Regions from separate parts of the Homo sapiens genome. Here region 1 is linked to region 2. The links come from fine-mapping of genetic effects on gene expression. Tissue or cell type: whole blood. Region 2 holds a variant in brackets; the other region holds the start of a gene. All regions are shown on one strand. Distances are from middle to middle.

Evidence for each region. PIP is the estimated chance that this variant, and not a neighbour inherited with it, causes the effect.
Region 1: it holds the start of STN1, and the variant in region 2 is fine-mapped to the expression of STN1 in whole blood (TOPMed, PIP above 0.99).

Annotation. Positions count from the first base shown.
Region 1 is chr10:103,916,952-103,919,928 of GRCh38, reverse strand. It overlaps STN1 (STN1 subunit of CST complex), which reads left to right and starts at 1,745. Exons shown (of 10, transcript NM_024928.5): 1 at 1,745-1,829; 2 at 2,273-2,467. The coding sequence starts at 2,335. RefSeq lists a silencer at 1,434-1,783 and enhancers at 1,524-1,818, 1,449-2,094, 1,954-2,283.
Region 2 is chr10:103,884,420-103,886,919 of GRCh38, reverse strand. All of the region lies in intron 9 of STN1 (STN1 subunit of CST complex), which reads left to right. Among named protein-coding and RNA genes, the nearest start is that of SH3PXD2A, 30 kb to the right of the region's middle. The variant T/C (reference allele first, on the strand shown) is at 953.

The DNA.
Region 1 (2,977 bases), 33 kb before region 2:
CATGAGCATTATTCCTGAAATCATCTCAGGCTCTGACACTTAGTAGTGATTTCCTCCTTTGGGTTTCACCCTGGAGCAGATGTGTACAGTCAGGAAAATGTCACTCAACCTGTCTCTCCCCATCTGACAGGTCAGCAGGAAGCACCTGTCCTACTGGGTGTGTTTTCTTTGCAAGGGCCTTCCTCCTATAAGAGAAGGTATCTTCTCTCTCTCTCTTTTTTTTTTTTTTTTTTTAATTGAGGCAGAGTCTCACACTGTCACCCAGGCTGGAGTGCAATGGCCCGATCTCAGCTCACTGCAACCGCTGTCTCCCAGGTTCATGCGATTCTCCTGCCTCAGCCTCCCGAGTAGCTGGGATTACAGGCGCACGCCACCACATTTGGCTATTTTTGTATTTTTAGTAGAGAGGGGGTTGGTTTCCGTATATTGGCCTGCCTGGTCTTGAACTCCTGACCTCGTGATCTGCCCGCCTCGGCCTCACAAAATGTTGGGATTACAGGTGTGAGCCACCGCGCCCAGCCAGTGTCTTCTCTTAATTAAATCTTAAACCCTACATTTCCTAGTGTTCATTGCAGTAGAATCTGGGCAATGTATTTTACCAAGGACTCTTGTTTTTGAGCTTCTTAAATGGCCGGGGAGGTAATTAAATGCCATGGGTCTAATGACACACACACTTTCCATTCCAGCGGCTCCAAGTTCCTTCTCTGATAAATAGTTTAGCAATTATCTCTTTGGCCACCACCTGCCTCCCCCGGGAATGGTCTGCCAGGGTGATCTGTACTCCCCTGCCATTTTCCAGAGTCTCTGTAAATTAGGAAGAATTCCTGACGTCTCGGGTAACGTAGCTCTTTATGGGAGTGGAACGTGGCTATCTTTCCTCACTTTAAAATAGAAATTCTGGAGACTAAGCACCATCAAGGTGGCCATGATTTACCAAAATGCCAGCTTTTCAAAGTTCTTAAGTGTACAACCTTCCAGACTGTAGACCGAACAAGGGTAAAGGAGACAAAATGTATTGTCATGATTTTGCACGGCTAGTCTCTGGCAGAGTCAAGACCTCACATTCACTCGAGGGCTCAAATTTAGATATTGACATCTCCAAGTGAAACTAGAGTCCTAAGTGTGTGAGTCAGGTCACTTACCAACTGTAAATGAACATTTAAAATATGCCACAATGCACTCGTGGCACTGCTTACTTTTTATCTGTTTTACATATCAGGAATCAAAAAGAAAAATAGTCTGATCCTGACCCAACCTCTAGGAGGCCCAGGTTCAGGGTCCCGCCACCAGCAGGAGGAGGGGTGAAAGGTGACTAGAAGAGCGGCGTTAGAACTGCAGGAATTTCAAGGTCGCCTCCTAGGCCTCAGCGGTGGAGGCTAGCACGAAGGCGGGGCTGCAGCGCTGCCTGAACCAAAAGTACGCTGCGCTGAGGCGGGGCACGGAACGGGCTGGACTTCGGCTGGATGGGGCCTAGCGGATGGTTGGGCCGCGGCGGGATGGGGCGGGGCTTCGGGCGGGATGGGGCGGGGCTTCGGGCAGGATGGGGCGTGGCCGCGGCGGGATGGGTGGGGTCTGGGTGGGATGAGGCGGGACTTCGGGAGAGATGGGGCGGAGCCGTGGCGAGGCGCTGCAGCAGAAAGGAAATGCGCTGGCGGGGAGACCGGGGTTGGTCCCTGGCGGGGCAGGGGGCGGGCTCAGGCCGGAACTCCAGAGACGACCTCAGCCAACTGCTCCTGCGCCGGGCGGGGTCGTCGCCGCCAGCGGCTCCGAGCGCCGGAAGGGCCAGGTCTCAGGGCTCCTGGAGCTGCAGGCGGCGGGAGGGGCTACAAGTGGGTCCATTTTTTAGTATCTTTTTTCCTCCTTTTCTTGGCTCATCCCCAAAAGCGGAAAGTTTAGGGCAGAGCGACAGTCAGACCCATCCACTATGCCCCAACACGTGCAGGGCTGCGAGGGCGCCCGTTCCTCCCGGGACCCCAAGCGGTTTCTGCTACGCCTGTACAGACGTATCTTCCCAGAGTGAAAGTTGATGTTTAGCCGTTCCGAAGTTGGTGCTTTGTGGGAAGGAGAACAGCGGGAGAGCCGTAAGGAACGCAGGCGTCCTGACGTGAGGAACGCCTCTTAACACGCCCCGTGGCATGGAGTTTGACAGGGCCCTGGATCCCTGCGTTCACCCCTCCTGGAGTCCTGGACGCCCACCTGGGAGCAGCGTCAGGGCCGTGCCACTTTGACCCACGTTAAACGCATTGCATCCTCATTTCTGTGTCCCATCTAGATGCTTGACTCAGTGATGCAGAACCTTTCAGAGTTAGCTGGAAGCCACAGCCCTGCCTCTTGATGCAGCCTGGATCCAGCCGGTGTGAAGAGGAGACCCCTTCCCTCTTGTGGGGTTTGGATCCTGTGTTTCTAGCCTTTGCAAAACTCTACATCAGGGATATCCTGGACATGAAGGAGTCCCGCCAGGTGCCAGGTATGTGGCTAGCCACCCTGGGATGCCCTGGGCTGCATCTGCCACCCTTTCCCAAAGTCTCAGAAAGCTGGGATTAGAGGCTTTTAGGAGAGCCTTCCCTGCTGCAGGCTTTGAAAGGGACCTAGCCTGGACCTTCGCATGAGTTCATTTATTTGCAAGGTAAAAAAAACAGTCTAAATCTTTTTTTTTTTTTTTTTTTTTTTAGTAGGTGTTTGGGGGAGTAACTTTTGTACTGGGGTTTTTACCTCCATTTAGGGTCTTTCATGCTTAAAAATGCTCATTTGTTTTTCTTTGGCCCTGCTCCTGTTGGAGAGATCGCTGGGCCAGATATTCCTAGGCCTGGCTCCTTTCCTAAATGTGCCACTTACCTGGTCCGGGCATGTGACTCACCTTCTGCAAAGTCTGGGTTTCTTTGTAAAAATGGAGCTTAACCCTGTGTAATGGAATCTTTTGATTCCTGATATGTAAAGGGGGTTTGTTTTCTTTTGAATTAAGCAGAATCAAAATATT
Region 2 (2,500 bases):
ATTGTGAGGAGCTGTGCTCTGGAGCCACCTTGCCTAGGTTTGAATCCCGGCTTTGCCACTTGCTAGCTGTGTAATGTTGGGCAAGTGCCTTGGGTTCTTTAAATGCAAAGTGGGGATAATAATAGTACCTACAAGATGGGTTTTTATAAGAAGTAAATGAATTGGCATTTAGAAAGTTAGAAGAGTACTCAGTGCATAATTATGATCCAAAAAGTATTAAATAAAAATGAAGTTCTCTTTCCTAATGGCACAAGTGGTAACCCCTAATTCTCTAGCCTGCAGGCCTGAAGGCTCACCCTCTACTTGGTTTAATATTGATCTGGAAGGAGGCAGTTTCAGATAGAATCTGTATGTGGATTTTGCTGTATTATTGTTGGAGTAAAGTTGACAAAATCTGGATTTTGGCTTTCAGTATGGGTACAACAATGGCAAATTATCCAAAAGAGCTCTATGTTGAACATGTCTTTTTATCTCTAACTTTTTACTCTGAAAATATTCCAATTTATCAAAAAAAAAAAAATTAAAAGACTGGTACAATAAACACCGATATACCCTTCACCTAGATTGACTAAAAACTTCAGTTTGTATTTGCTAAGCATGCAGAAATTCTCCTATTTGATCACCAAATCATTTCACACCGAAGAAAATTAACATTTGATGAGTTCCAAAATGGCAGCCTTTCACTAAATGTTACTTTATACCATTAGCTTTTCAAAAATCTCCCATGTATTTAGCTCAGGTTCATTTTTTACTATCCCAGAGCTGGAGAGAACTGCTGCTTTTGGTAGAAACTGAGTACCATATAACACTACTTATACTGGAGGATTTTTTTTTTAAACTTAAGACAAACTTTTAAAAAAGACTTAAAGAAGTTTAACCTTTTGTAGTTATAGTAGTAGGTTATATCTGAAATGTATCTTTATGTCATTTGGGTCTCTAGAACATTAGCCTT[T/C]GTGGTTTCTGGTGGAGGTATGATGGGGTATAGTATGAATCAGGCTACATGTGAAAGTTCTTGGGAAAATATAAGGCGCAGTTATCACCGCTCATAGTGATCCGTCATAAGATAACTATGTCTGCCAGGCAAACACTTTTCAGAAAAGTCTGCTTCGGCTTGTGGGTTTGTTCCAGAAGAGTCGAATTATGTAATTGTACTAACCCCTGGGGAGCTCCTTGCTGGCCTTTCCTACTTTTACTGTTTTATAATAATTTCTCACTTAGAGAAGAATCTAAGGCCAGGCACAGTGGCTCACTCCCATAATCCCAATGCTTGGGAGGATTGCTTAGGCCAGGAGTTCGAGACCAGCCTGGGCAACATAGCAAGACCCTGTCTCTACAAAAAATAAAAATTAAAAATAGAGAGGAGTCTAAGTTCACATTACCGAAGTGACTGGAGATCACTTTTGAACAGCCTCACCAGATAACCCTCAGCAGAACAGCCTTTCTGACTAAATAGTTGAAGGCCTCTGAGACAGTCAGCATCACTGCTTTGGGCCCCATGGATGCCTGTAAGTCACCTTGAGCCCTGGGTCCAAGCATCCAGGCCTTGCAGAAACTAAAAGCTGAGCAGCACTAAATTCCCTCTGCTCCTCCCTACCGTGTGCAGGTCTGTGTGGTTGGAGCCCCTCACCCTCCATCATCAAACCTATCCTTGCTTGCTGGTCAGCTCTTCCTCCTTGAGAGGCTTTTCTTCTTGGGAAGGGATGAAGCTTTTCTAGAGCAGGAACTAAGTTACATTCATCTTCTTGGATTACGGATATGATGAACCAAATCATAGTAGTTCCCCCTGGTCTCTCATCCACACAGCCACCCTGAGAAGGAAGTGGTTTTGTTCCCGGGAGTGACTTTGTCCCAGTTGTAGAGCCAGGGCTTGAATTCTGGTGTGGTGGACTCCAGTGGCAGCTCCAGGTCTGCCAAGCTCTACTTGCTCCTCCTTGCTCAGCAATGCACACATAGTAGGTGTTCAGGAAGTCTATGGAGTGAATGTTGAAGAAACAGCCTGGAAGTATAGATGCCAGCAATCCCAGTTGGAAGGAGTAATGAGTGGACACAGCCACTAGAGGTCAGAATTTAGCAAATTTTTGTTAGCCCAGGAGCAGTCTCTGAACCTTAGGGTTGGAAAGGGCCTTGGAAGTGGTTTTCACCACAGCTGAGAACACTCAGGCCTAGGGATGGCTTGCCCAAAGCTACAGAAGTGCACCAAACCTTGAACCGTGCTTTGCCTCACACCGCAATACCTCTTCGAGCACCTTCCTGAAGCCTAAAGCATTTTTCATCTGTAAACAACTTTCAGTGACTTTGTGGAGCACCTTTTGTGTGCCAGATACTGGGTATACGGCAGAGAGAGACCATGCCTGCGCCTGCCATGGAGTTTTAAACTGTGACAACTGGAGAGGGTTTGCTTTTGGTAAAGAAGTTTGACTTTGACTCAAAGTTAGAAATACATTTTACATCATGACCCAATAAATTATATAATTCTAATGCATAAGATGTATATGAAATT